Regions from separate parts of the Homo sapiens genome. Here regions 1, 2 and 3 are each linked to region 4. The links come from fine-mapping of genetic effects on gene expression. A gene starts in region 4. Each other region holds a variant in brackets. All regions are shown on one strand. Distances are between the middles of the regions.

The links. PIP is the estimated chance that this variant, and not a neighbour inherited with it, causes the effect.
Region 1: its variant is the best candidate, but not a certain one, in a credible set for the expression of SCFD1 in CD4 T cells (CEDAR, PIP 0.57).
Region 2: its variant is the best candidate, but not a certain one, in a credible set for the expression of SCFD1 in whole blood (GTEx, PIP 0.55).
Region 3: its variant is the best candidate, but not a certain one, in a credible set for the expression of SCFD1 in whole blood (INTERVAL, PIP 0.52).

Annotation. Positions count from the first base shown.
Region 1 is chr14:30,585,828-30,593,940 of GRCh38, reverse strand. It overlaps G2E3 (G2/M-phase specific E3 ubiquitin protein ligase), which reads right to left. Exons shown (of 15, transcript NM_017769.5): 3 at 7,126-7,223; 4 at 4,457-4,558; 5 at 1,494-1,618; 6 at 302-467. Among named protein-coding and RNA genes, the nearest start is that of G2E3-AS1, 13 kb to the right of the region's middle. The variant C/T (reference allele first, on the strand shown) is at 3,178.
Region 2 is chr14:30,665,553-30,673,665 of GRCh38, reverse strand. It overlaps SCFD1 (sec1 family domain containing 1), which reads right to left. Exons shown (of 25, transcript NM_016106.4): 11 at 3,271-3,410; 12 at 319-409. Among named protein-coding and RNA genes, the nearest start is that of SCFD1, 47 kb to the right of the region's middle. The variant C/G (reference allele first, on the strand shown) is at 3,523.
Region 3 is chr14:30,696,705-30,704,817 of GRCh38, reverse strand. It overlaps SCFD1 (sec1 family domain containing 1), which reads right to left. Exons shown (of 25, transcript NM_016106.4): 16 at 4,560-4,630; 17 at 2,443-2,522. Among named protein-coding and RNA genes, the nearest start is that of SCFD1, 78 kb to the right of the region's middle. The variant A/C (reference allele first, on the strand shown) is at 3,212.
Region 4 is chr14:30,617,474-30,625,586 of GRCh38, reverse strand. It overlaps SCFD1 (sec1 family domain containing 1), which reads right to left and starts at 3,268. Exons shown (of 25, transcript NM_016106.4): 1 at 3,188-3,268. The coding sequence starts at 3,248. G2E3 (G2/M-phase specific E3 ubiquitin protein ligase) reads right to left here. Exons shown (of 15, transcript NM_017769.5): 15 at 5,523-8,113. RefSeq lists enhancers at 2,986-3,665, 2,735-3,934.

The DNA of each region.
Region 1 (8,113 bases), 32 kb after region 4:
TAAAATCTAGTTTATTCATTGTGAAATCAAACAAAATCCTTAGGTAAAAACAACAAAATTCTTTAAGTATAAATATACATTAAAAAGTTTCATCTGAAGTATTTATTGAATGTTAATTGTATACTTAAATAGGGTGAATTTTGTATGTAAAATCTGCTTCAAATTAAGTGCTTTAAAGCTGTTTTAAAAGTAACAAGTAGTAAGAGGTAATATACACGTCAATTCTTTCTAATTTAAAATTTAAATCAGCAAGCCATAATTTTATATCAATCAGAGAAAGCTTACAAAATATGTATCTTACCTGTAAACAGTCTCTATGAAACCAAGCGTTCTTACAACAAGGACTTCGTAATATGTTATAACTTGGAATAGGCTCAATAAATTCCAAGCAAATGGTGCATGGTAAGGACTCTCTATAATTATTAGATGTAATTATTTGAACAGGTCGATGGTCCCAACAAAATGACCTAAAAATGTAAATTATTTTAAAAAAATCTCATGAACTGCAAAGCAAAACTTGGAAAACACTGTAATTCACATATATAAAATGAAATTCATTTGTGTCTGTCTCATAATTCACCTACAACAGACTGGAGCCTTGGCACTAAAAATTAAGTCTCACAATCTATGACCAAGGAGAGAGCTGGACCTTCGAAATCTGAACTTTTCTGGTAGTGAGACTTACTTATACAGAATTTCAGAAACTAATAATTATGTTGAGAATCCTGTGTAATATTGTCAGCAATACAGTATATACATTATTGTATTCAACAAATGGGTGCATACGTTGTGCTCAAAATCGTATAAAATTAAGGGAGGCAGGAACTTACGCCTAAAAAATAGTTTAGTCATATAACACATAAAATGCAATTAATAACCTATTCCCAATTCACTTTATTTCCATTTGTATTTTCTAAACTGTAGTTTTCTTACATGATAACAATCCATTAAATAGGTCAAAAACACAACTACTAAAAGAAATGGAATACTTATGATACCAAAAGTCAAAATTCATAAAACCTTGATGTTTAAAGTTGTACTCAGGAAGCAAATATTTTCAGGGGTATCCTAGGGCATAATATTTACTTTGTGTACTCAATCAAATTTACATGCCTTTGATTTACTCGAAATGCATACAGCCCTGTGAAGAATAAGTCTACAATAATTCTAAAGAGTGACACAGAAATCTAGAATTATGTAAAGGTGGAGATTTTCACTGAATTATGGATAAATTAACAATTTCATGTTATATCCAAAAGCTGAAAATTGAAAATGAAAGCTAATCATTAGGTCCATCCTAGACATGGTAATTCTCAAGACTTGGCACATAGAAATGACCCCATAAGGGTGGGCGGGAGGGTAATACATATAATGTTATATCTAAACTCTGATGCTCTAAACAGAAAATTTATTGTAGTATTATATCATTGGGATATGTATTTTCCACTATTCTTTAACACTGAACTTTCATATTTAACAGTTAAATAACTCACGCAAAATTGCCAGTAAACTGGAAAATACATTCTCTCTGAAGTCCACATGGGAAATGATAACTTCGTTTACATCGGGGTGCAACACATCCAATTGAAGCACCATTTTTCTTGCAAACACAGCATTTCTAGAAGAGTATGTGAAAATAGGGGTCACAACATAAAAAATCTGAGTATTATAATATGATCAAGACATAAATAAATACTCCTGGTGGGGAATCTGAAAATTATTTCATCATGTAACAGCTGTGGTAAGGGTATATTAAATAAATTTCCTGAAAAACTGTTCTACCCAGAAACAATCTAAAGACACCAAAGATTCACTCCTATAACAATTTCGATAAAGAAAACATCTCTAGCCTAACATGTGGATAAGACAGAGAAGCCCCTTTTCCTTCCTACTAAAATATTTTAAACTGAAGGGTTTATAAACATAAAAGCTATATACATAAACACCTCATTGAAATCTCAAGAGAAAGCACATAAATTAGGCAACACTCACCAAGAAGAATAGGAAAATACTATAAACCAATTTGTAAAAAAGGCTAAGATCACTCTATTCTGACCAAATGAAAAAGTGTTGAGACACCTACAGTGGATTTAGAGTGGTCTCCAAAAAGTTATGCTCAGGTCCCGACTCCCAGTACCTGTGAATGTGAACTTACTTGGAAATACGGTCTTTGCAGATGTAATTAAGTTAAGGATCTTGAGATCATCCTGGATTTAGGGTAGTCCTTAAATCAAATAACTGAGGTCTTTACAAGAGAAAGGAGAGGGAGATTTAAGACACAGGCATATACAGAGAAAGGCCTGTGAAGATAGAAACAGATTGGAGTTATGCTGCCACAAGCCAAGGTACTCCAAAGGTTGCCAGCAGCCATGTGAAGCTAGGGGAGAAGCATGGAATCAATTCTCCCTTAGTGCCTCTAGAAGGAACCCTTTTGACACTTTGATTTACAATTCTGGCCTCCAGAATGGTGAGAGAATAAATTTGTTTTAAGCAGCCAATTTGCTATGGCAGCCCTAGGAAATGAATATACTACCAGTGCCGCTAACTGAAATGTAACAGTGGTACATAAATAGAAAAATTATTAAATGAATCAATCATTAGCAAAATACAGAACAGTACCTAAAACACCTTGGAACCCTTAAGACGGCAATTAAAATGGTCACTGATTCAGGGATTACAGAGTTACTGCTGACCCCTTTGAGCACCACCTAGGTCACTGGAGAATACCTGCCAACCCGAAACTCTCCCAATGAACTGACAACAAGGAATTCTAGTTTGAGTTCACAAATGAGACTCTTCTTTTCAAGGGTTCACAATATACTTGGAGAGGATTCGGATGTTTTAAGAAAATAAGTACAGGTTGAATATCCCTTAATCCAAAAATCTAAAATCCAAAATGCTTCAAAATAGGAAACTTTCTGAGTGCCAACATGATGCTCAAAGGAAATGCTCATTGGAACATTTTGGGTTTTGGATTTTCAGATTAGAGGTGCTCAACTGGTAAGCAAATATTCCTAAATCTGAAAAAAATTTCAAATCTAAAATTCTGGTTCCAAGCATTTTGGATAAGGGATATTCAATCTGTAGTTCCAAACCATAAGGGGACCTTTAGAGACCACCTTTTACCACAAGCTCACTATCACCAGGAAGTTTAGGAATTATGATACTAATATCTCA[C/T]GTTTAACATCTCACGTAGTCCTTAGATTCATGCTCACCTTTCTCCCACGGTTCTTCCTTGTGCCCTAGAACCTCTGTTTTTACCATTAACTCTCCTACCTTCTTGATATCTTCAAAAATAATTGCCTCCACTTCTTTGCCTCAACTAAAAGAATAAATGTTTCTTATGTGCTTCCCTTGTAGACCTTCTTGAATAAAGCTGCTTATTTTTCCATCCTCCTTAATTTCCAGACTTGACATGGGGTGGGACATGGACAGGGGCAGGAAAGGGGACAAAGAGAACATTATTTTAGTTCTCTGTTGAATATTATAGGCCACTACTTGATTTTCACACTTTGAAAAATTTGGACCTTTGAGCCTAATGACATTTACCCTTCTGTTATCTGCTAACTTCCTAGTCACTCCTCCACCTCAAGACTTTGGCATCTGTGGAAAACAAAGTCTAAACAACTTCAGCATTTATGGGATAATCTTTCTTTGACTTCTTCAACTATAATGTGTCAGTGTCCTTCATTTCCCCTCCAGTGTAATGATGAATCCCTTCATCACCCAAAATGCTCCCCCATGAAAATCATTAATGCCAGTATCACATTCTCTAAACAGAACTCCCTGTACTTCAAATCTTCTCATTCTTTCTCATTATTTTTACTTAGACAATATGGAGACGTTTCCCTGCATACAGCATAGTGGCTGTTATATAGAAGATGCACAAATGATAACTGAATGAGCAAGGAGTTAAAGTTTAGAATGCCTATCCTAGAGAATAGAAAAGGGTACTGAATATAATCACACAATGTTAGAGAAGGGTCAGGAGATATGGAGATCATGAATTGCCAGTCTGGAAAGCTGTGTAATTTCTAACTCAACCCAACATTCCAATCTCAGAAACTGAGGTATAAGAATAAAAAAGTATATGGTTGGGTTGACTCAGGATCAAAGGTTTAGAGAACAGCAGAGTGGAGTTATGATCATAATTCTGATGGTCAGAGAAGATTGACCATCAGATCATAATTCTGATGGTCAATTCTGATGGACATGTTGGAATAAGATAAGGAAGTGAAGTCAGTATTGTCACATGTATTATCCAGGGTCAATTAAGCTTTCTTTAATGGGCAAAAATATAAACTGTCCTCCTAAAACTTACCATATTTAAATGACAAAATATGCATTGAAACCTATAATCAAAGTCATAAATTTCTAGTACAGAAACTGATAGAAAAGACTTCCCAAGTATTGACAATATTTATGACATTACTTAATAGTAAAATAATTTACTTACCAGTTTAGAAGCTCTATTCACTTCCTTCCTGATATCTTCTATTAGAAAACCATAAACTCCTTCTTCTTCTTTGCCTCTCTGCCAAATTCCACTTGACATCAACTATGAATATATTCTCAATTAGAAAATAAACTCTAAGAAACTAGTTGGGCATTAAAAAAATATATATCCATACTATTCAGTCTAATAAAAAACAGACATAAAATGGCTCAAATTTCAAGTAGTTATCTATAGTAGTTATTTTTCATGGTCAAAGTAAGAGGCTACTTACATTGTTTGATTTAGATGGCACTGTATATTATCAGTTTGTATATCCTAATTAGTTTCTAAAAGTATTCCAGGAAGTAACAGAAAAAGAAAGAAAAAGAAAAGATAGGAAAGAAGGCAGTGAGTGGTTAGGTGGGTTAGAGGAAGAAAAAAAGAAAGAAAGAACACCTACAATTAAGCTTAACAAAAAGGAGTGGTGAATACAGATGGAGACAATTCAGATTAATTCAGTGACATTTCAGGCTAACTCTAAATCTAGCTGAATTCTGAATCATTAAGGCATTATTTACAAGAAAACCTATTGAACCCTAGTTAACATAAATGTTTGATTTTAGAAAGTTTCCTTAACCCCCAATGTGACAGTAATAAATGTTTGACTTTTTAAAAATTTGACTTAAGCTTCATTGTTTATACATGTTAAGAAAGCCTGAATCAGAGAAAGTGTAGAATGTGAATAAGAAATCCTGGCTTGCAAGCCAGGCTCTGCTGAAACTTCTGGAACCCTAGGCAAGTATTAATGTCTCAAACCTTAAACATGAAAATAAAAACACTGGATTAGACTATATCTAAGTCTCTTTCCGCTCTAGCATTCTATTGCCATTTGTAACATCACTATACTTTTCTGTTCATAATGAAATAGAATATTAAAAGGGTTAAGTCTGGGGTCAGTACTTTTTTTTTAAAGTATTATATTCATTGAATAAGACAGAACATAAGAGAAATTTTGATCTGATCAACTTAAATGTATTACATAATTTGAAAACACCATGTAGAGCAAATTTGTGATTAGAATTTTAACCAGTATATCGTAAAGAAAAACAAGTGATAACAAGTGATACACACTAAGAATTTGTTATGAAAACATAACCTGCAGACACATAAAATGGCTCTCCTAATTCTACTGCATAAAAAGTAAAATAATACTTTTTATTTTACTTTTTATAGAAAAAAATAAAATAATCCTTTTACTTTATAGAAAAGTAAAATAATCCTTTCCTGACTGAAAAAAAAGTAAAATAAACTTACAAAAATGGAAAGATTTTCTTTTTACTGCAAAACATAATCGTCTGTAACTTATAAACATATTTGGAATGACAACTTCATGTTCTCTTATAAATAAGCTCCCAGGCCAGTCTACTACTCTATTTAACCTTTGAGGTACGGAGGCACAAGACTGTAGTCTTAGAGGACCAAGGAATACTTCAGGTGGTTTCTCAAAGAAGCACTGAAATAATTTTAACATGGATGGTGGTAGATTTGAAAATATGTCCACAATTTGTTGATACTTCAAGAAGTGGGGCTTAATTCCTCTTGAGTGTGGGCTACTAGACTTAATGATTTGTTTCTAACAGAATAAAGCAAAAGTGACATTAGTGTGTGGCTGTGATGACTAGGTCATATGGTTCCATCTTGATTTCTCTCTCTCTGTCTCTCTCATCACTTGCTTTGGGAGAAGCCAGATGCCATGCCACGAGTAGCCTTATTTACTAAGAGGCCCAGGAGGTAAGGAGCTGAGGTTTCCTGACGCTAGCTAGGAGAAATTGAGGCCAAAAGCCACATGACAGAGCCATCAGAGGTGAATGGATCCTGCAACCTAGTAAAGTCTTCAGCTGTAATCTGACATCTCAATGATAATATCATGAGACTCTGAGCCTGAACTATCCAGCTCAGCCAAATTCCTGACCCTCAGATACTATGTGAGATGACAAACGTTTTATCTGCTAAATTTCAGAATAATTTTTTAAGCAGCAGATAACTATATAGTATCAAGAAACACTGTATGTACTAATGCAAGCCTGGCATGCTAAGGTGGTAATGTGCCACTAATATCTTAAGGCATGAATTCAGTGAGGTGAGAAATTGGTGGAGGGGAGGGGGAACAAAGGGAGACTAATTCTGAGTATGAAATCACTCGTTTGCTTTCTTCTGAGTGATACATAAAGTAACTGGTTTCCTTTTCCAAAAATATTTATCACCTTTAGCCAAGACGTTTCTTTTCAGGTTCTGTGTGAAATAAAATACTTTTATTCCACTCCCTGAACCCTCAAACAAATCTTTTCTCAGATTTATCACTAGCAACAAATGAAATAAGAAAGTGGTAAAAGAAATACCTCCTTTATAGACCTAATCATTTTTTCCTTTTTTCACTTAGGCCTTAAACAGAAAGAAAGAAAAACAAACAAACAAACAAACACGAAATAATGATAGGTCTTTGTATGTACTAAGTAACTTCAGAATCTTAGAATTCAATATCAAAAAACAAAATGTCTATTTTTAGAGATAGACAAAATGAGATCTGGAGAAGTTAAATGACTTATCCAATTCTCAGAAATCAGTGTCAGAATCTTACTATCTTCTTTAGAACACCAAATTTCTAGAATTTAATTATAAATTATACTCACCAAACAGTAGTAATGTACAGTGAGATTCCATTTCTCCTTAGTTTTCTTTTCTCCGTATTTATTAGGACAGTCATCATGTTTTCGACAGAAAACACAAGCTAACAGTGAAAAAGTAAATAGATATAAAAATATATTTAAATATTTCAAAAAAACCCTATGGAATTGGTGCTTCTCTAAATTTCTGTGTTAAATTCTTTCTGAGAGCAAATCATATAATATTGATATCAGTAACTTAAAATTTCCAATACCTACTTCTGAAACATTAATGTAACTTTATGTTCTTCACCAGTCTTTAATGATGAATTTCACTGTGTAGTTAAAATGGCAATTTATGAAGTAACGTCACTGAAAATGACACACTGGGGAACTACAAAACTCTGATTAAACTGCCAAAAACTGTTAGAATTAATTTTTAGAAGCTGTACAATCTAAATAAAAACTTACAAAAATTAGGAGAATGCTTAATGAAGAAACAAACTACTAATTTTGATGAGAACATCTTAACTTACCCACCTACCATTCCCCACTGCCCAGCTGGGCAGTGGTCTTGGGGTGGCCCGTGTTCCTGGTGCAGATTACTGGTCCAAGAGGGGGTAAAATGGACCTTGTTCTTTAAAAAATGTGATTGTTTTGACCTGTATGATGGCTCCCTGAGGGATGAGCTCAGATGCTTGCCTTTCTTTCACCTGCCTCAGAACTTTCTCAGGGCTGGAGCCTCTGCTGTTTGTCAAAAAACATTTGAAACAAATATACTAGCTGTAGCAGCCTAGGACAAGGGATAACAGATAGGGAAAGCAGCAGATAGACTGAAAGGCATAGGAAAGAAGAAACTGGGAAAAGAGGGTACATGAGGGAATAAAAATTTGGAAAACCTTCTGCATAATAACTGGAGAATCTAGAAGTCCACATGCATGCCCAGAGATGTACACATACTCAGAAATGACCCAAGAAATCCTAAGCTCTCACCTCTGGCTGATGTTTAGGCTCA
Region 2 (8,113 bases), 48 kb before region 4:
CAGAGACGTGCCATAGGTCACACAGCAATAAACAGTAGAGCTGAAATCTGAAGTTACATCGAAGTATGGTAGAATGAGCAGCATTGGAACATACATCTCTAAAATGATGCTACATTATATATTTTTTCAAATCATATATTATTTTTTCTCTTCTCAATATTTAGATTTCTTTTTGATCACTTACGCAAGTTGAAAATATTTTTGTTATAAAAGCATTAAATGGCCTTCAATTTTTATAAGGAAAAAAACCCAAATCTCTTTATCTAACAGATAATCCTCCTCTTTCCTATAATTCTTAGAAAGCAAATAGAATCTTACCATAATGCTTTTAAGTCGTTTGACCTCATCTTCCTGTGCTCTGTAAGATTCTAGTTCTTGCTGAACTGATTCTGCAACTTCTGGGAATGGACTAAAACAGTATTGCACAAGAACTATGAGGATGACATTAAAAGACCAATTTTTGTGTAAATTCTAAAATATATACAATGAACATTTATTATTTTAAATATACTTATTTGGATTTGAATATATGTTATATATAACAAAGGCAGAAAAGATTCAGCACAAATACAACTACATATCTTTCTGATATCTATATAATACTATTTCTTTAAAATGCATATAATATACATCTAAAATTTAAATTTCATTTCTATTTTTCATTAACAGTATCATACATTCTCTTCACTTATACGTTTTTAGAAGAAAAAGTAAAATATTTACATGACTGAAAATCAATGGAAGACAAGTCATGTTATATCAAATATCAATTAAATATTCCCATCCAAATTAACACGTCATGTCAAAGGGTCCATGCAACTACAAAGACAGCATTTAAAAATATCACCTGCAAGTAACTGTGAAAAAATTCTTGTAACTCAGAACTCATAATATCCCAGAACACTACTGGTAAAAATAGCACTTGGGCCACAGTTTTGGTGGCCTAATACCTGATGTCTTCTACCAGGACATTGTGGTTTAGCAGTAACTTACATAGACTTTAGGCAGAAGTGATCTGCAATCATGAGCACTCAGGTAGAAAACACTGTACTAATCTTGACAAACTCTAGGTGAATACATGTTGATCATTAAATGTTTCTTAAAATGAGTATTTTTCATCTACAGCCTAGGGGGAGGCCAGAAGCCTTTTCTCCTTTAAGAAAGAAAAGGTCATGTCTCATTAACAGTGAACAAAAACCTTTCCCCCCTTCCTCAGCTCTGACATCTGAAAATACCTCTCTAATAACAAGCACATTTTATCCAATGGAGACTAGCAGAAAAGACAGGAGCTCAGAAAGGATTCTGAGGAACACAGTCCAATTTTACCTCACAAGCACAGGCATTTACTCCAGCTCCAGTTGAGTCTATGTTGGCAAAAAATAGCACTGAGGCCTCAGCATTGCACTGGGGAGTCAGAAACCCTTGTTCCATCTAATTATAATGGAAACTTCCTTTACAGGCAAGCTCTTACCCTCTCAGGGCCCTAGCTTTATCTGTAAAATGTGTGGGTTGAACTGGATAATCCTCAAAATCTCTGATATCTTTAGGTCTCAGAGTTAACAGAGAATAATTGCTCACATTTATTAAGTGATTTTACTATACATCAAACACCATGCTAAGAATTTATCTTTTCTTTCTTTTTTTTTTTTTTAAGATGGAGTTTTGCTCTTGTTGCCCAGGCTGGAGTGCAATGGCGTGATCTCGGCTCACTGCAACCTCATTTAATCCTGATGAATCTGTTGAGGTAACTATCATAACTTAACTATTCAATGTTAAGACTGGGTGCTTTATGGTCTGCAAGACCTGGGTTTCATCCCTGGCTTTACCAACGAAAGCTGGATGACTTGGGCAAATTACTCCTTTAAATTCATTATCTCAATCTTCTCAACAACCTTCTGAAATAGGGCAATAGGTAGAATTATTATCTCCCTATTTTACTGATGAGGAAACTGAAGCTCAGAGAGGTTTAGGTCACTTGTTTATGCTATCTCCAAGTGTCTTTGTGCCCATGTTACTATTGTATGTAAGATGCAGAGCAAAAGAGCTATTCCTACTTAATGAATAGGAGGTTAAAATTCTTACTATTCAACTGACCTCTTAAATTGTTCTTAAACATATGTTCTAAAAAAATTCAAAATTTCCATATTTGAATACAGAGATTTTTTTCTTAAGCTTTTCTCTATTAGGGAATGCCAACTTCAAAATATTCTGTATTCTCTATAAATAATGCCTCTCTAATAAAAGTAATTTCTTGTACTTCACCATTCTGGAGGGAAACGTAGATTATGGAATTCCAAAGGGAAGAGTATTATTTAAAATCAAATTTATTAAAATTAATTAAAATAGTACCTAAAACTGCCATAGTGAGAAAGAGAAAGACAGTGACTTTTCTCTGCAGAGAAAGTCAAATCTTTGTTATGGCGATTTGATTTTCCAGCTTAAAAAAAAGTTGTAAGTAAAAAAAAGATAAAGCATATTAAAAACCCAGCATGTTGAACCAAGTCTATATTCGACTTCTCTTTAAACAATAAATATAAGCCCAAAAAGAACAGCTATATCAAGGACACACACACATTTTGAAATATTTTTTAAAAATCATATTTTCATAATTGTTGATGAACAGTATTCTTTTTCTCTGAGGAATAATATTTTTGTTTGTTTAGAATGATGGCTCTAGCCATAATGATCACTAGATAACTTTTATAGCAGTAACTGAGCCCATGAAGTACCCTAAACTTTAAGGGGGCATAGCATCACATGGGATATGTATATCTGCCCACAGTAAATCACATGGCAAATTAATGCAGTTTTATCACTCATTATTTCTAATGTACTTTGAATAAATTTCTAGGCTTTTAGGCTTAGGTACTCTCTCCACAAGTATCTAAAACAAGGTTTACATGAGGGCAACATGTAACAAAAAGGAAAAAATCACCCCCAAAATCACAAAAGCCAATTTAAATGAAAGGCAGAGATGGTCTTATAGAGTCAGTGGAGACAGCAACAAAATTGAAAAAGACTATCTGTATAGGATGATCTCATTGAAAGGAGAAGCGGTCCCTATAAAACAACAATGAACAAAAAACAACTTAGGAATCAGTGAGAAATGGAGAAATAAAGACAAATATCTACAGACTATCTAATTACAGCCCCCACTCATTGGGTGAACGAACCTACATGACCCTTTTTTTTCTCAAATTCATTAAGGTGGATGACACCTTAATTTCTCTTTAAAAAAATGAATCTTTTACTTATTGATATTTTGCTTACCTTCCTTTATGTTTTTGCCAAAATTTATCAACCGGAGTTAAATCATAAGACTTCTTGTTTTTTCTCTTTGGTCTAGCACCAGCTGGAGAGTTTTCCACTCCTGAAGATTCTTCCAAATTAACCCTGTTTAAATGGAAATCCTAGGAAAAAGTAATCTTGTGTTAAACAACTGTTTTCTAAGTCTAATAAAAATAGAATCTTGTTGCCCTTTCTAATGTTTCCAAGGACAAAATATAGATCTGAAATTTAAAA[C/G]ATCTCCTCCCAATCTTTTGTTACATACAAATGTAATTTTGTTTCTGTATTTTAATGAAAGTATTAGATGTATATTAAAATTTCAAACAAGAAAAAGAGAAAAACATGTCAATATGCTTGTGTATCCTTCTAGAAAAACATTGATGCATATAATAGCACATACACATCCTCTTAATTTTATTTTTTAAAATGGGATTACAGGGTACATGTTATATCTTTTTTCATCTAATAATACATTTTACAGCTCTTTCTGTATCTGTATATGTACATTTACTTCATCTTTATCATAACTACACAGTAGTCCAATGTTTGGCTAAATCAACTTATGCAACCAGGCCTCCTGATGCTTGGTCATTTCCAGTAACAAATGTTATCTTAAATATTTTTAAACTCTTAGAGAGTCAACATTCTGATGTGTCACTTGAGTGATGAACTGCAATTTTAAAAATTACAATAGATGCTATAATAATAAGTGATGCCCCTCTTTCACACAAACTTTAAGAGTCAGGCCAGTAGTGGCTAAACTTTCTTGCCTAGGACTAATTTTATTCACGTGAGGCTTGATTTTTGTACCTTTTCTGTAAAAAAAACCAAAAAACCCCCCAAAACCCAAAACCAAACCAAACCAAACCCACAAAAACCATTAGGCAAAAATAAAAGTAAGTATCTTTTTTCTTTCCCCCAACTTCTTGCATTACATCTATGGGTTCCCTCACAAATAGCAGCATTTTATGGTTTAATGCCAACTAAAGAATAGTGAAAGATAAAACATGACTATCAACAAGTAAATGATTGATGAAGAAGGAAGACACAGTATGGAGAAATTATCCAGCATGACTGAAATATAATTATCTTAGTTCTAAGGTATCTGTATATATTTTGAATTAATGATTATTCTAGGTCTTAGCAAATTAAATATACTGAATGCAATTCAGTCTCCTTTAGATAAAACAAGGTTATCAATACTGACTCTAGGTCCTTAACATAAACCTTGTAACTTTCTCAAATAAATCTTTTATAATAGTTTATTTCCTTGCCATTTTTCTCTTTGACATAAAAAGCAGGATTTGAAAAATTACAGATGTCTACATACCCAGTAATGGGATTGCTGGGTCAAATGGTATTTCTAGTTCTAGATCCTTAAGGAATCACCACACTGTCTTCCACAATGGTTGAACTAGTCTACACTCCCACCAACAGTGTAAAAGCGTTCCTATTTCTCCACAGCCTCTCCAGCACCTGTTGTTTCCTGAATTTTTACTGATCACCATTTTAACTGGTGTGAGATGGTATCTCATTGTGGTTTTCATTTGCATTTCTCTGATGACCAGTGACGATGAGCATTTTTTCATGTGTCTTTTGGCTGCATAAATGTCTTCTTTTGAAAAGTGTCTGTTCATATCCTTCGCTCACTTTTTGATGGGGTTGTTTGATTTTTTTCTTGTAAATTTGTTTACGTTCTTTGTAGATTCTGGTTATTAGCCCTTTGTCAGATGGGTAGATTGTAAAAATTTTCTCCCATTCTGTAGGCCGCCTGTTCACTCCGATGGTAGTTTCTTTTGCTGTGCAGAAGCTCTTTAGTTTAATTAGATCCCATTTGTCTATTTTGGCTTTTGTTGCCATTGCTTTTGGTGTTTTAGTCATGAAGTCCTTGCCCATGCCTATGTCCTGAATGGTATTGCCTAGGTTTTCTTCTAGGGTTTTTATGGTTTTAGGTCTAACATTTAAGTCTTTAATCCATCTTGAATTAATTTTTGTATAAGGTTTAAGGAAGTGATCCAGTTTCAGCTTTCTACATATGGCTAGCCAGTTTTCCCAGCACCATTTATTAAATAGGGAACCCATTCCCCATTTCTTGTTTTTGTCAGGTTTGTCAAAGATCAGATGGTTGCAGATGTGTGGTGTTATTTCTGAGGCCTCTGTTCTGTTCCACTGGTCTATATCTCTGTTTTGGTACCAGTACCATGCTGTTTTCGTTACTGTAGCCTTGTAGTATAGTTTGAAGTCAGGTAGTGTGATGCCTCCAGCTTTGTTCTTTTTGCTTAGGATTGACTTGGCAATGCGGGCTCTTTTTTGGTTCCATATGAACTTTAGTTTTTTTCCAATTCTGTGAAGAAAGTCATTGGTAGCTTGATGGGGATGGCATTGAATCTATAAATTACCTTGGGCAGTATGGCCGTTTTCACGATATTGATTCTTCCTATCCATGAGCATGGAATGTTCTTCCATTTGTTTGTGTCCTCTTTTATTTCGTTGAGCAGTGGTTTGTAGTTCTCCTTGAAGAGGTCCTTCACATCCCTTGTAAGTTGAATTCCTAGGTATTTTATTCTCTTTGTAGCAATTGTGAATGGGAGTTCACTCAGGATTTGGCTCTTTGTCTGTTATTTGCGTATAAGAATGCTTGTGATTTTTGCACATTGATTTTGTATCCTGAGACTTTGCTGAAGTTGCTTATCAGCTTAAGGAGATTCTGGGCTGAGACAATAGGGTTTTCTAAATATACAATCATGTCATCTACCAACAGGGACAATTTGACTTCCTCTTTTCCTAATTGAATACCCTTTATTTCTTTCTCTTGCCTGACTGCCCTGGCCAGAACTTCCAACACTATGTTGAATAAGAGTGGTGAGAGAGGGCATCCCTGTCTTGTGCCAGTTTTCAAAGGGAATGCTTCCAGTTTTTGCCCATTCAGTATGATATTGGCTGTAGGTTTGTCATAAATAGGTCTTATTATTTTGAGATACGTTCCATCAATACCTAATTTATTGAGAGGTTTTAGCATGAAGGGCTGTTGAATTTTGTCGAAGGCCTCTTCTGCATCTATTGAGATAATCATGTGGTTTTTGTCTTTGGTTCTGTTTATATGATGGATTATGTTTATTGATTTGCATATGTTGAACCAGCCTTGCATCCCAGGGATGAAGCCAACTTGTTTGTGGTGGATAAGCTTTTTGATGTACTGTTGGATTTGCTTTGCCAGTATTTTATTGAGGATTTTCGCATTGATGTTCATCAGGGATATTGGTCTAAAATTCTCGTTTTTTGTTGTGTCTCTGCCAGGCTTTGGTATCAGGATGATGCTGGCCTCATAAAATGAGTTAGGGAGGATTCCCTCTTCTTCTATTGACTGGAATAGTTTCAGAAGGAATGGTACCAGCTTCTCTTTGTATCTCTGGTAGAATTCAGCTGTGAATTCACCTGGTCCTGGACTTTTTTTTTGGGTTGGTAGGCTATTGATTACTGCCTCAATTTCAGAGCCTGTTATTGGTCTATTCAGCAATTCAAATTCTTCCCAGTTTAGTCTTGGGAGGGTATATGTGTCCAGGAATTTATCCATTTCTTCTAGATTTTCTAGTTTATTTGCATAGAGGTGTTTATAGTATTCTCTGATGGTAGTTTGTATTTCTGTGGGATCAGTGATGATATCCCCTTTATCATTTTTTATTGCGTCTATTTGATTCTTCTCTCTTTTCTTCTTTATTAGTCTTGCTAGCAGTCTATCAATTTTGTTGATCTTTTCAAAAAACCAGCTCCTGGATTCATTGATTTTTTTGAAGGGTTTTTTGTGTCTCTATCTCCTTCATTTCTGCTCTGATCTTAGTTATTTCTTGCCTTCCGCTAGCTTTTGAATGTGTTTGCTCTTGCTTCTCTAGTTCTTTTAACTGTGATGTTAGGGTGTCAGTTTTAGGTCTTTCCCGCTTTCTCTTGTGGGCATTTAGTGCTATAAATTTCCCTCTACACACTGCTTTAAATGTGTCCCAGAGATTCTGGTATGTTGTGTCTTTGTTCTCATTGGTTTCAAAGAACATCTTTATTTCTGCCTTCGTTATTTACCCATTAGTCATTCAGAAGCAGGTTGTTCAGTTTCCAGGTAGTTGTGCGGTTTTGAGTAAGTTTCTTAATCCTGAGTTCTAGTTTGATTGCACTGTGGTCTGAGAGACAGTTTGTTGTGATTTCTGTTCTTTTACATTTGCTGAGGAGTGCTTTACTACCAACTATGTGGTCAGTTTTGGAATAAGTGTGATGTGGTGTTGAGAAGAATGTATATTCTGTTGATTTGGGGTGGAGAGTTCTGTAGATGTCTATTAGTGCAGAGCTCAGTTCAATTCCTGGATATCCTTGTTAACCTTCTGTCTCGTTGATCTGTCTAATATTGACAGTGGGGTGTTAAAGTCTCCCATTATTATTGTGTGGGAGTCTAAGTCTCTTTGTAGGTCTCTAAGGACTTGTTTTGTGAATCTGGGATTTGTTTTATGAATCTTGTTTTGCTCCTGTATTAGGTGCATATATATTTACAATAGTTAGCTCTTCTTGTTGAATTGATCCCTTTACCATTATGTAATGGCCTTCTTTGTCTCTTTTGATCTTTGTTGGTTTAAAGTCTCTTTTATCATAGACTAGGATTGCAACCCCTGCTTTTTTTTGCTTTCCATTTGCTTGGTAGATCTTCCTCCATCCCTTTATTTTGAGCCTTTGTGTGTCTCTGCACATGTGATGGGTCTCCTGAATACAGCACACTGATGGGTCTTGACTCTTTATCCAATTTGCCAGTCTGTGTCTTTTAATTGGGGTATTTAGCCCATTTATGTTT
Region 3 (8,113 bases), 79 kb before region 4:
TTAGTGGCACACCATAGACATTTTATGCCAGTCAGTATTCTTTCATAATGATTCTTATTTTAAATGCTTTGTAACTGGGAAAAAAAGAGTACCTAAAGAAAATTTTATAAGGGAAAAAAATGTAAATCACTAAGATGTGGTAGTAGAAATGCTAAAAATATTCAATTTCAATCTTGACAAAATGTGCCAACAATACCCTTAGAGAAATCCCAAACAAAAATTTCAGTCTTGTTCAGAAAGGATGATGTGAATCAGCAGTGGATTAGAATTTCTGCATTAACAACAACAACAAAAAATAGTTTTTCACTAGAAACAATATCTAAACAACAAAGAAGGGTTAAATAAATAACAGTATATTTATATGATTTAATATTAGGCAAACAGTAAATACTTCCATGAACTGGCATGATGAAAGTTATTAAGAACTAGAATACAAAACTGTATCTCTAAAAATGATTTCCCAGTTTTAAAAAATATCTGGCTGGGTGCAGTGGTGCACACCTGTAGTCCTAGCTACTAAGGAGGCTGAAATGGAAGGATCATGAGCCCAGGACTGTGAGGTTACAGTGAGCTATGATTGTATCACTGCACTCCAGCCTGAGTGGCAGAGCAAGACCTTGTCTCTAGAAAAAAAATCTGTCATATGTATAAACAATGAAAGAATATACACTAATGTTTACTTGTAGTGCAGACATGATGCCACAATGAGAAAATTCCACACTGACCTCTTGTCAGGTTGCAGTCCAAATGCACAACTTAAGAATATTGATAAAATTACCTTTAGGCTATGCATATGAGACAATAATTGATTTTTTGTTTAGACTTGGGTCCCATCCCCAAGATATCTCATTATTTATATATATATATATATATATATATATATATATATATATATATATATATATATGCAAATATTCCCAAATCTGAAAAAATCAAAAATCCAAAACACTTCTGGTTCCAAGCATTTTGGATAAGGGGGATTCAACCTGTATTATAAAAATTGGGAAAGACAGTTTTCAGTTTTCCTTTTAAACAAAGGTTTGTTGTGTATTTTTTTTTCTTATTACAAGAACACAGACAAAAGTAAGTTTCAAAAGTCAAAAGTATAGATAATAAAAAGCACTCATAATCTCAGCACTCAAGAGATAACTACTGTTAACAACTTGGTGTAATTCTCTTGTTATGCTTTTTTTTAATGTAATTGTGATCAGAAAGCCTATTTAATCCTTTAGTCTTAAAAAATTAATTATTTTAAAAACTATTTTGAAGGTAATAGTTTTTGTAGAAAATTTGAAAAATAAAGAAAAGCACCCAAAAGGAAAAAAAATTCTACTATTTGGAATTATCTACTATTAACATTTAGTTGTATGCCATTTCAACTCTGTAATTACATGTTTTTATGTGTATGCTTATATGAACACATACATATGGATGAAAAAATGGATAAACAGGGATCATAACTGTAAAAAATGTCATTTAAGTTTTGGCTCAAATGTGACTGCCTACTAGATGCTTTCCCTGATCTCCTAAGCAAATTTAGCTATCACCCCCAGCAGGTTAAAATCTTACCACTTAGTTTTATTTCTTATGTCATTTAACATGGTTTAACATTATTCTGTTCATTTATTTGCTTATTTGTTAATTGTTTCCTCAACACAAATGTGAATTCACTGACAGTTGGGGCCTTGTTTATCATGCTCGCTATTAGGAAATATTTATTAAACAAATCAATGAAGAGTGTTATAATTTTTTTTTTTTTTACTTTGCAATATAACGTGAGCATTTCTCAATGTCATTAAGTAAGCCTTCTGATTTTTAATGACTTGACTGTATTTATCTTGCAGAAATACCACAATATACTTACTAACACTACTGCTAGACATTTAGGTTGCTTTTAAAAATTTCATTATTACAATTGTGTCTAAAGTCTTAGCTCCAATTACTTCTTTGGGATAAATCCTTAAGAGAAGTACTAGGTCAGAGCTATTTTTAAAGAACTCTTTATACCATCCAGAAAAATTTTGACAATTTATATTCCTAATAGCAGAGTATAAAATGCACAAGTGAATTTTCCTGTATCCTTGGCATGGTATTTTCTAAACATTTGCATTATGTTAATTTGCATTTCTTTGATTACTAGTCAAATTAAAATTTCCTCTTAATGCCTTGGAGACATTTGACTCCAGACATTTCGGTCTTTGACTTTCTCACCTTATCAGTAAAGAAACTATAAAGCTTGCCCAGGAAAGAAAGGCATCACTGTTTTATGTAATTTTAAGTTGTAAACAGGGTGGGCCAGATAAGGAAATATTTATGCCACTGGATATATAAAACCACCAAGGCATTGTTCAGTTTTCTTATTAGCATTCCCATTTTCTTGGGAATGAAGCCTCAATTGTACTCTTTTAAATGACAGGAATTAAAGAAGAAAATAAAACTTACTTCCACTGTTTGATATATTGTAAAGGATTAAGGTTGCATCCTGCATCAGTTAAAGCTTTTTTATATTGCTCCAAATCAGCCTGAAATAAGAAAAGAACTATATGACAAAAAATTTTACTTTCAAGAAAGATGTTATTTGTTGCCATTTGATTAATTAAAAAGTAAGACCAAAGGCATGAGTTTAAATTCTTGGCACCCAAGTAGAGTGGAGTCACGTCTTAAGTGAGTACCCAAGTGAGCACCCAAGACAAGAAAATCACATATAATGAAAATTACCTTTAAGAGGCTCCCAAATCACCTATAAAAGTACAGTATTTTTAAATTTCTCAGCAAGTCCAACAAAGCTATTTTTTCCTTTACTGCTGGGATAGACTGCTTTTCTTCAGGACACACACTAAATGAATGATTTGGTTTGACCAAGAATATTTCTAAACCAGAAACACAAGAGGAATGACACCAACTGAGGGGAGCTGCAGATTTCGGTTTCTCATCTCATTTTCATTCTAGGGGTCCAGATTCATTAACTGGACAACAGGTGTCCCGCACTTTTAAATTTTTTTTTTTTCACTCTTCCTTACTCATTTTCTGATAAGTCTGGCTGAATTTGTGTAACTTAAAGGAGCCTATCTTAACGATCACTTAAATTTATGAAAAGACATAATCCTTACCAAAAGTAAATAAAAATAATGTGGTTAAATTAAGGGAACACTGAATTAAGTTTTAAAATCACATATTCTTAAGAAAAATATTTTAATTAGGCTATTAGAAT[A/C]CCCTGAGATATATAGGTAAACCCCTGTTGATGAGAGAGATACTTTTTTTTTTTGAGATGGAGTTCCACTCTTGTCCAGGCTGGAGTGCAGTGGAGCAATCTTGGCTCACTGCAACCTCTGCCTCCCAGGTTCAAGGCATTCTCCTGCCTCAGCCTCCCGAGTAGCTGAGATTACAGATGTGCACCACCACGCCCAGCTAATTTTTGTATTTTTAGTAGAGATGGGGTTTCACCATGTTGGCCAGGCTGGTCTCAAACTCCTGACCTCAGGTGATCTTCCCACCTTGGCCTGAAAGAGATACTTACAAAAAGAAAACCACACTTTCTTAAAAAATTAGAAGTAAAGCTTTGTGTTCCCAGGGTAAAGCAGAATGGCTGAGAGCAAATATCAGGTTTAGTTTTGCTGTCTTAATATGCCAAAGATTTTTGACCAACAGAAACCCTATCAATTTACCAGATACTAACAACAGCAACAACAAAAAATTGCTACCAGCAAAGGAATGGAGCTTAGAACAGCCACATTCTAAATGTCATCTTGAGGTTCTTATGCTTCTTGCTCATCCAGTAAAAGTATACAGTTAACATTAAAGTCAACAGTCTCTAACCCAGAAGAAGTCTGATACCAAAATCACCACTTTCTTTTACAGAATAGACAACGTATTTTCTACATTGGACATTAGTTTTAAAACAATCTTAAAATAAGGTCAACCTTTCAAAAAGCATAGCAAATCTGATTAACTTAGTTTAGAATAGTTATTTTCCAAAAATAAGAATGTTGGCCACTGAAATTCAGTTTACATTCCAACAACTTAAAAGTAGTCAGATGTTTCACGGGTAGTTTCCCCTGGTAACAATAAAAGTTGCTATAAAACACAGCAGTACATAGAAGCAGCCTTAACAAATTGTTTTTCTTTTTTTTCTTTTATTTTATTTGAGATGGAGTATTGCTCTGTCACCCAGGCTAGAGTGCAGTGGCATGATCTTGGCTCACTGCAACCTCTGCCTCCCAGGTTCAAGCGATTCTCCTGCCTCAGCCTCCCCAGCAGCTGGGATTACAGGCGCACGCCACCACACTTGGCTAATTTTTGTATTTTTAGTAGAGACGGGGTTTTGTCATGTTGCCCAGACTGGTCTCAAACTCCTGCGCTCAAAGTGATCTGCCTGCCTCGGCCTCCCAAAGTGTTGGGATTACAGGTGTGAGTCACCACGCCTGGCCATTTTTCTTTTAAAGAAAGAAATGAAGCAGATATTTAGCCACAGTGATTTTTACTTCTGTTTTAAAATCTGAATTGTAGTAGTCTACAAACAAGCATTCCCCTTCCTCCCAATAACTGAATAAAGGACATACCTCAGAAGGTGCTTGCTGTGTGCTTATATAATAGATAAGAAACAACCTCATTTTATCTTCTGGAGTTCCTGCTGCATAGGGGAAAAGAGGTTAAAAAATATTTTCATAATTGTGGTTATTATGTATTATAGTCAACACAAGTATGTTACATTTCAAGGCATATATAAATGTGACAAAACAAAACATGGCTCTTGATTTAACTAAGGTAACAGGCATATAATTATAACCATGTAAAATACAAATATGGAAAAGATTAAATGAGGTGGGATTAGAGGGCTGTGATTATGAGAGCATCTCTATTGTATCTTCCAAATTGTGTATAATGTTGAGATTTCCCTTTTAGATATAAACTCACAATGAAAGGAAAGGATATAAGCAGGGTAACCATACAATTCTGAAACAGGATACTTTTGAGGTGGCAAAAGGGGTGCCAGTAACAATTACATAAGGACAACTGGTATGAAAGTGGGACTATCCTGGGAAACCAGATGTATGGTCACCCTAGGAATTGGGTTATGAGACTTTGCTGGCTAAACAAAATCATCTAGCTGAGCCTAAAGCCATACTTCTCAAATTGGGGGGCCCCTAAATACACATGTTTCTGAAGGCTTTTATATTACTATAAGAATGGGAAAACAATATATTTTTATTAAAAAAATTGTTATATCACATAGAATATATTTGCCTCAAATTTTAAGACAAAACATAAGACTTCAAAGTAATGTCTTGCTTGCAGTGCTCTGAGTTACTACTCTTAGTACCCAAAGCCCAAGACTGTCCAGAGAAACTCATTTATTGTCTGTTCTTCTATCATGTATGTGCACTTTGGTGGAAAGGTGATAAAGCATTGTTCTCGACAAATAACAATATTCAGTCTCACTTTAAAGTGCATCCTAAGATGCAAGAACTCAGAATTGTTGTATTTTATGATAGAATAAAAACTAGCTGATTTTCTTCAAAACATAATGACTGATAAGACACTTATTTTTTATATGATTTGGAACACTAACGCTCATTCTCTAATTATCCGTACTCCCTGAAGATGACAAAGAATGGTAAAATAAAGATAATGGTAAGTTCTCTAAAGTTCTCATGTTTACAAATAAATATTGTATTTGGGGCATTTGGAATATTAGGTTATGAGACTCCAGGTCCTGTTAAATCCTAGGACAATACTGATATTTTTGTTTTAACAGGTAATTAGCCTGATTCAGTACAGGCTAATGTTCCTACCAGCCTTCCGTAGGTTATTCTTCCATCATCGATTCTATTTTCAAAACCTCTTGAAGTGCTATTGAGATCTGTCCCATGAACCAGTGGTCAGTCTGGGGACTGGGAGGTCGTCTTCTAGCTCTTCCCCTCTCAGTCTTTGAAATGCTGTTTAGGATCAGCTTCATAGATGTGCAGTTCAGGGGTGAACCCAGGAATTCATGAACAACTTTATGAGGTTACTTTCCTGAGCTCCTTCCTCTCCACAATCTCCCTGGTACTTTCCCATTTCCTTGGCCTTCCCTTTTTGGTGCCCCAGCTAGAAAGCTTTGGCTTTGGTCACCCTGCTTCACTGAGCACTTCCTGCCGTAACTGCCGCAACTATGATCAACCAGCTAGAGGACAAAGGGCAAAAGAGTAATGAGGCTTGTCCTACCCGCTTGGGACCACAGATCCTAATATACAAGAGGAAGGTTCCCCTCCCTCCGAGTTTTAGGGCCTGTGGGTCCCCGAGTTTGCTTCCAGCATCTTCAGCATCTAGCACAGCCTTTTCTAATAGTAGATACTTACTTTGCTTAAAGAAAGAACAGCTCCCACTCTTCTTCAAGAGGAAACATACTTTAAAACTGCTACAGTGTTAATAACTGCCTTAGAACATCTGCTAAGGTTTTAAAGACCAATCTGATGCTAAGGGCTGGGGAGCATACTGATGGTTATAATGACATAACCACAGGGAAACCAAACTGAAATTGTCAGCATGTGTCCTTTACAACTATGATTATTCTAAAGCCTGTAGCTACAGCTTGGAACCTCTTGTCACACGCACCTCTCTCCTTTGACTGCTGCTTTAAAGTTAGAATTCCCTTACTGAGTAATCTGATGTATTTTAGAGAAAAATTTTAAGTACAGTTTGGAGAGCTTTTGTTCTCCCTGAAATTTTGAGAGTAAGATGCTGACCTGCTGTCCCATTACCCCCAAATGTCAAAGACATTCTCTAACACAGCCTCAGTAAAACAATTAGCAAAATGTGATATTAACACTGGCACCATTACAGCGATGTGATATACTACATGACACATTCACTATCATTTAATTCTCAGATCCTAGTTGAAGTTTTACCAATTATGTCTACAGTATATTTAATGGAAAAAGGATCAATTTCAGAATCATGTGCCACATACAGTTGTCATGCCTCTTTAGTCTTCTTCTGTATGAAACAGTTCCTCCATTTTTCCTTGACTTGCATGGCCTTGGTTACTTTTTAAGACTATAGGCTGGTTTCTTCCTAGAATATCACACAATTAAGTTTTGTCTAATATTTCCTCATGATTAGATTTAGGTTATACCGAGGCAAGAATATCACAACAGTGATGCTGTGTTCTTTGCACTGAATCCTACTAGCCCTTTACCTCTCAGCCTTTCCTGAGCTCCTTCCTCTCCACAATCTGCTTAGTACTTTCCCACTATTTTATGTCTCTCTACTGACGACGTTCACTGTGGTTACCTAATAAGGTATTTATCAGGCTTCTCCACCGCACCGTTACTTTTTCTTACAGTTAATAAGTATTTTGTGGGGAGGTATTCTGAAACTGCATAAATATCCTATGAAATTTCAATTTATTCATTTATTATGTCCACATGGACTCTTGGCATCCTCTTTTATCAGTGGGTTATAATCTGTTATTATTTATTTTGATGCTCAAATTGTCATCATCTGGAGCCTATTCAAGCTGACTTCTGGGTTCTTTTGACAAGTTCCATCATTTTTGGAGTAGCTTCCTTGCCTTCTGACACAACAAAAATGTTCCAGACTCATTTTGTACTTTTGCTCCCTGCCCCACCTCTGGAATCAGCTACCTCTCCAAGGAGTCCTAGTGGAAACTGTATTTATAAGGCAGCATCTTTACTAGTTGGGCATTGCTGCTCCCAGGCCCTTTCAGTTGGCAGAGTTACGGAATACATGAGTATACACCGCCCCCCCCAACATACAATCTATATTTATTTCTGTATCTGAACAGATATATAGCGAAAACACTAAGTTCACACCAACACCTCTAATTCCAATCCAACACTACAGGGTTCATTCTAATTTTTTCCCTTTCTATATTTATAAATTCCTCCTCTGACAATGGGAAATTGGGCTTTCTTTATATTATCCAATATATTTATTTAGCCAGTCCCCTGTATATAACAAATATCCCATCTCTGCTTCCATGGGCTTGCTGCATGGATGCCCTTCTTACTTCACTTGAGCTCTGATTTCCTGCAGTGGACCCATCCACATACCTAGACATACGTCTCACCTCACCTAGGCCCAAGCTGGTTTGTTCCTGTGCAGGGGTCAC
Region 4 (8,113 bases):
GTTAATGGAGTACACGGCCTGTGTTCAGAGTTTACAAGAACGTAATTTTACTTTTATCAGAGTTTACCCAAGGCTTAAACCATGACTTTATCTGAAATGACAAACCATTTTTCTTATTGGCTCTAAATATACTACAGGTTGAGCATCCCAAGTCTTAATATCTGAAACCTGAAATGCTCCAAAATCAAAATTTTTTAAGCTGGTGCTCGGATTTTGAAATTTGGGATGCTCAACCAGTAATAATGCAAATATTCCAAAATCAAAAACACTCCTGGTCGCAAGCATTTTGGATAAGGGATACTCAACCTGTATCCATATTCCTAGACTTGGTTAATGTCATTACTTACATACACACTATTCATTCATTCAACACGTTTGATGAGTGCTCACCACAGGCACTGTAGTTATTGGGGATCTAGCAACTGAACAAAACAGTGAATAAAATCGCCTGTCCTCAAGTAGCTTTCATTCTAATTGGGGGATAAAAAAAATAAAATAAAAAAAAAGTAAAACATATGGTATGTAGATCATGGTAAGTGCTTTGAAGAAAGGTAAGATTGGGAAAGGGGAAGATGGAGTTGAGGTGTAATTTTAAACAGAATAATTGGGGAAAGCCTCCTGAGAAGGTAACATTTGAGTAAAGACCTAAAGGAAGTGAGGGAGTGAGCCATGGAGATTATCTCTGAAACAGTACTCCACAAAGAAGAAACAAATACAAAGGCTCGAAGGTGGGAGCATTCCTGGTGGGTTCAAGGAGAGGGAAGAGAAATAGGGAGTGAGGTCCAAAAGCTACATGGAAACCAGATCGTATAAAGCCTTGTAGAACACTGTAAGATCACTTTGGCTTTTATCATGGTTGAAATGGGAAGATGCTGGAAGATTTTGAGCAAACATATGGCATGATCAGTTTGGGTACTGTGTGAAAAATAATGAAGGAGAACAGGATTGTAAAAGCAAAGAGACCAAATAGGTTACTGCAGAAATTCATGGTGGACAGGACCTCGGAATAGCAATGACAACAGTCAGATCCTGGATGTATTTTCAGAGTAGAACTGACAAGATTTACTGAAAGATCTTACATGAGACATGAAAGAGACAAGTCAAGAAAACTTCAAGGTTTTTGACCTGAACAACTAAAAGGACGGAACTGCCATTAACTGATATGGAGTAGACTGAGTTCAGATGGGACGGCCAGACTAGGGATATAAACCTGGGAATCATCAACATACAGATAATACTGAAAGCTAAGGCGCTAGATGAGAACACTAATGGGACCCTGCAATGTTGAGAAGCTGGGAAGATGTGCAAGAACCTGTAACGAAGACGCATTCAATGAAGAACAACAGTAACACGGAGCAGGAGGCAACTGATTCTACCTATTGAACTGAAGGTATGGATAGAGGGGACAGTGAACCAGGAAGAAAGGAGATGGCTTGTGGGATGACCTTCAAAAGATCAATAAAGATTTTTCAGGAGACCAATAAAGATTTTTCAGGCAGGCAAAGCAAGAAACAGGCACGTTAGTTTACCTCTATCTTACTTTCCTCACCTGTAAAATGGAGATAATACATAATCACCTAATGCAATGCCTAACAATAGTAAATGCTCAATAAATGCCAACTATTATCTCATCCACCCAAATATTCTAGTATCTAGAATATTTAAGGACTGTGAGTTATCTCCCAAAACATTCTCCATAGGCATGAGGGAAATAGCTAATTCTGCATTATAATATATATACAAGGATTTACCTTCCTCTGAAAATAAGGCAGAATTCAATGACAGTAAAAATTTGATAAAAAATAGATCTAGCACTACCTAGTAATTCTGTAAAATCTTACTATGTTTATTTCTGCAGAAATACAAACGATTAGATTTTAATGATCTACAAAATTTCTGCATACAAGTTTACGGCCACGCAAATTTATTTTTCAAAAAGCTCTCTTGTATTGGTACAGTTTTACTGACACGTTATTTTAATATGTAGTATAGTCATCAGAAACACAGTATTAAAACAAATGGAGCTTCCATTTGTTTAAACATATACAACGAATGGCAGGTATGCCCCAAATCTTATTTGAACTTCCCTATATTTAGTTATGCCTGACTTCACCTGATAGGTTATACTAAATTATTTACTGGGAAAAGCAGAACGCAACTCAGTATCTTTTGTGTGTCATTACTAAATTGAAGTCTATCACTTTTTCTTTAAATGCCAAAGGAAGGAATCAAGTACAGCCCAAATCCCTTCTGTAGGTCATATGAATTATAAATTTATTTTCCTATTCATATTTATATCCAACAGAGCATAATTTCAGGAAACAGAATTCCAAGTATGCACATTCTTGATGCCTTATTTCTATTAGCTCCTCAGAATAAATTGCTTGAAAACTTTTAAGACAACTAGTTAACAAGTATAAACCTTTAGTTTGTAGCTAACAGGTATAAACCAAGTTGTCATGAGAAGTTTTCAAGTAAGGCAAAACTAATTTCTAAGACGGAAAAAAACCCAAAACTCAAGAGAAGAATATGTGCCTTTTTACATTTCTCTGCATAAATAGAAGCTATATAAACATGCTCTATTGAAGATAAAATATTATTTTAAAACAATGTGTCAAACAATTAAAATGAGAAAGCTATTAATTCATTTGTTTTGCCATTCTTCAATGCCTTCCAGCAAGCTGAAGGAGAAAATGTTTATCACCAGGCATTTTTCTGCAGGTACCCCCAAAAGACTGGTCCGAAGTAGAGAAGTGGCGCAAAGCAAGCCGCTGTGAAAATACCTAAATTCTCTGAGTGTCAGAAAATGGGAGTTCTCTTAAAAATCAAAACCAGGAGAACTGAACCACGCACAGAAACTCGGAGACCTCATAGGTGGCAACATAGATAAGAAGCTATCAGCTGCTAGATCTTGTTGTGATGGCCTTCTGATGCCCACTAGGAAGGAGACAAGAGCAGGGCCGTAGCAATCCGCCCACCGCTGAAGCTCCTTCTCCTGCACCACAGGAGGAACCGAGTCCTCAAGCTAATGGCAACTTCTCCCCAAAAACTCAAAGGGGAGGGGCTCTTGATGTTCTAGGGACTGGATTAAACTCCTGGAGATCGGTCTCTGAGCTGCACGCACCAGAGGAGAAGGATGTCGTCGGGGCAGTCACGAAGCTTCAAGGAGAAGAGAATAAGTCAGTACCTGTCTGCCTTTCCCGAATACTGGCTGCTGCTGCTGCTGTCGCTGCCGCCGCCGCCGCCATCTTGGCTCCCACGAGCCACTGCCCGGCTGGGGAGCGGAGCGGGGGGATGACGTGGCTGCCCTTACCGCCCCGGAAGCAAAGCCCGGAAGGGCGGGGCCAAAGGGTGTGCCTGAGTTCCGGACCCCACCTCCTCCAGGAAGACCTCCACTCTCGGTAGAACTGGGAGACCCGGTGCAGGTTAATTCAGTGGCCCGTAATGTTAGGCGAATACTAAGAGTTTTTATCCTACCGAATCAAGCCACACTCTCTCAAATGGTAGCAACATTAAATTGAGCTGTTAGGGTAGGAGCGTGTAGTGCTAAGAACCTAATTACTGAACTGTTGGTTTGGTGACTTACAGAGCACTTAAAGGGTGATAATGCTCTAGGAGTATAAGGACCACAGGACTGAAGTAAATGAAGCTCCTGAAACACAGGCAACATTTTAACGTTAGCTCTCGTTTCTCAGTGCAGCAGGAGTCTTCCCTTTGCTCCTTTCTCCAGAGAAACGGAAAGCATTGGAGCATTACTCTGATCTGGCATATTTCTCAGTCGCATCTCTTTAAAAAAAAAGGTGTAGCTTTATGGTGGCGTTCTGCCGGCATGGACACGGGATCCAGGGAGGTACAAAATGAGAAATTAGCATTTCTCCTCTTTCCTTGTAGTAATTGCAAAATCACCTTGCCGTGGGAAGGAAGTCAAGCAGTAGTGGGGTGTGTTGCCTAGGCTGGAGCGCGCAATCAGGGATCACTGCAGCCTCAAATTCTGACGGTCAAACGATCCTCCTGCTTCAGTCTCCCAAGTAGCTAGGGACTACAGGGGCACACCATCAGGCCAGGCTGATGTGCTGGTTTTTGTTGTTGTTTTGTTTTTGAGATAGTATCTCACTGTCTGTCGCTCAGGCTGGAGTGCAGTGGCAGAATCTCGGCTCACTGTAGTCTCGACCTCCCGGACTCAAGCGATCCTCCCAAACTATCCTTCCACCTCAGACTGCCCACTAGTTGGGACTATAGGCAGGGGTCACCACGCCCGGCTAAATTTTTTTTTTTTTTTTTTGTAGAGACGGGGATTCACCATGTTGGCCAGGCTGGTCTTGTGCTGGCGGTTTAATGTACACTTGAAGCCACGTGACCGCAAAATATATGGGATAGATGATTTCTAACTTAATCCATAGATTTTACTGTATGACCAAAATGGATACACAATGACACCTCATTTCCCGAGTTCATTGATGACGCTTCATTATGAAGTTGCACCAAATTCTGAAATGAAATCACTCTGTACCTCAAAAGCTTAACTTTCACAATTATATAAATGAAATGGTTAGCCTAACGATTATATATTGTTTTATAGTGTGAAACACTGGCTTTTTTCATTAATAAAAATTTATTTTTGTGACATTTAAAACAGGTTATCTTATTACATAATCTCTGCCGGGTGCGGTGGCTCACGCCTGTAATCCCAGCACTTTGGGAGGTAGAGGTGGGCAGATCACCTGACGTCAGTAGTTCGAGACCAGCCTGGCCAACATGGTGAAACCCGGTCTCTACTAAAAATACAAAATTAGCCGGGTGTGGTGGTGGGCGCCTTTAATCCCAGCTACTGGGGAGGCTGAGGCAGGAAGAACTGCTTGAACCTGGGAGGCGGAGGATGCAGTGAGCAGAGATCGCGCCACTGCACTCCAGCCTGGGTGACTGAGTGAGATTCTGTCTCAAAAAAGAAAAAAAAATTATGTAATCTCATTTTTATAGCTAATTGGCACATTCATTAAGAAATTAACTGGAATACATGTGTGTCTTCAGTACTATTACTAATATTTTGAAGGAATCTTCAATGATCTAGGTGTGTTCCAACTAAACAAATTATTTCTGCCCTATGGGAAAGTTCTACTGCATTCTACAGTCTCTATGAAATATAAAATGTCTGAGAGCCCAATTTTGCTCATTTGGGTACTTCCACTTTCAAATGCAAATCCATCATTGAGCCACTTCAGTTCCATCACAGATTCTCTCCCAAGACTATGAGTCATGTTAAAACCACGAAGACAATTTTAAAATTGATGTACACTGCATATATATGAAATGATAAAAACTCCTGACCAAGTGCACAGAATGTGGGCAATAAATTTATAGAAAAATACACCTCACAGAAGAACAGCAACCATAGACAAATAGCCCTTGTAAGGCTGAGACTGAATAAGGTATTTGTTTTATTAGAATCAGAAAGACTGAAAATAATCTATGGCTACAGATTGTTCATTAACCTAATTTACTATAGCCATTTATCTGAGTCCAGATTTTTGGCTTAAATAATTTATTCTGGTAAGCTATTTTACATTAGAGGATACATAGTTTTAACACAGATTCCCTCATTTCTATAGGTTCCTGGGTGTCAGACACTAACTGCTTGCTTATAGGATCTCTCAAATGTGGAGAGTAAAGGAATCTTGTATCTTTCAGTTTCGTCAGAATCTTAATCTTATTAAATCCCAAAAAATTACTTAGTTTAAATAGGCAGTTTACCTTTAGTGGCATAAACACATTTATTTATTTATAAAACATTGTTATAAATGTCACGCTTTTTGGTTAATCTGGCAGTCTTTAAAAGGGGGGGAAATAGGCTGACATATAAACGATCACCTAGCATAATACCTGGCATAGTGTAGGTACTGGGATATGTTTATGAATTAGAAGAGATAATGGTCAAAATCAGAACTTGAAAACTGAGTCTCTTCAAGACAATCCAAATTTTCCTAAACCACAGATAATATACATTCAAGTAATTCATCATTAAATGGGTTATGTTTTGTATTGCATTACTTGAAGCATGAAACTTTGTATTGCATTACTTGAACCATAAAAACTAGTTTAATAGCTTATTTTAAAGTAACAATGCAGTACATGATAATCACTATATAAAAGAATTACATGTTTATAATGTAATGATTTTGTTCTGATCATTTTCTTATAATGACTGAATGCTAAAGGCACAGTCACTGAAAAAACTTACCTAATATACTCCCCTTGACTTAGTATTTAGCACTGAATACAAAAGTTCCAATAGCTTCCATATAATTAGGGGAAAAATTTACAAATGCATAAAATAGAAACCAAGGTGAATTCTCATGCTGGTAATCAATCAAAGGCTTTTTACTTAACCCAAACAAAAAAAGTCACTTCCTCAAATTACAGAAACTAAAAATTACAAAGTATAAAATTGTAAGTTTCTGGTGAGATATTTTAAAGAATATCTTGAATAGTAGAGAATTGTATAAAAGGTGTTAAAGTTTCCATATTGGAAAGTGTTTAAAAACAATGAATATCAAACTAACCAAAACCATTAACAGTAGATGCATTATAGATCAATTTATAGTTTTCCTCAACATTAAGAGCAAGAGAAAACAGCCTTAAAATATACAACATTTAGGCAATTGCAATATTTAAGAAATATATGTACACATTTATAAAGATTTATAGCATAATTCTTTTTTAAAATCTAATGTAAGAATTATGCACTGGTTATAAAATTAATAAGAAAAGAACAATTATAATACCAACCATTTGACAAAATGACACTGCAGAAAATAAATAACCTACAGGTTTCTCTGATATTCCTTGACCATACAGATTAATCTAAAAATGGTAATAATGGAACATCCTTCAAACTAGAAAACATTTTGCAAAATAAATATTTATGCTTCACTTTAAAACATGAATATCCTAAATTATTTACACCATCTTATCACTAAGGCCCTGTCTATATATAAAATAAGTCAAATGAGGAATTGAAATACTGTTTTTAATTGTAGCTAACCCAAGTACACTGCCTCTCCACCTGCCACCCCCACCCCAACAAAGTATGTGTGTGTGACTTAATCAGCTTTAATTTCTACCCTAGGGGAAATTAATTGCAACTAAAAACCAGAAAATAGCTTTAACTAGGTTTTATTGGTTTGTATTGGTTTTTAGCTGTAATAAAAATAAGGTGGATAAAGAAACAAATATCTTTTTATCAACATATTTGGAATAAAAACTGTATGGTGACTTTGGGGTTTATATTAGCTATTCAAACTCTTTGATAATTGATCTTTCAATTACTATTGGTGAGACAAAAAAATTCAACCAAAGCCAAAGAAATGTCTTGTTTAATGTTCTTAAATATTTCAAGTTAAAGTAAAACAAATTTGCTAGGTATGTTAGTGTACAGATTGAAAAAGACATGAGGGAACAAAGAAAAGTACACTAGAATTATGTTTTAGTTTTCCTTTGGTATTAAGAGATATATTATCTCTTTCAAATCTATTCTGTTACTTAAAAAATATCAATAATGTAATGATTTTTCTTAAGAAGGGTGAGAATACAACAGCTGACACCTGCTTTGTGTATTAAGAAAAATATGGTTAAAACATTTTACTTCCCATAATGATTTACTTTCATGGAAAACTGAACCATTATATCATTTAAATATGTTAATAGATTAAGGACATCAGACTTTGTTTTCCAATTTTTTCTTCTGTGGGAGTATAAATATGGGGACATGACTATGGGACTATATATTTTCACATTGTTAGCACTTTGTTAGTACAGTTACTTTTAGGTATTGTCTTTTAGTAGCATTATTAAAGTTAAAAAATAAAGGAAACAGAAGTAAAGAGTTTATAGAAGGATACACAGAAATACGGTACTTATCTCTGAGTGGTGACATTAGAATGGGTTTTTCATTCTATCCTTTTTACTTTATTTATACATTGCTTATATAACAGATATCATTCAAGAGCAATGAAGATAACTGTATAATGCTATGGCGTCAACTTACCTTAGCATACAACCAACTTGATAATAAATAATGGTCAAATGGCCAAACCTACCAATCCACAGAGATCATTCA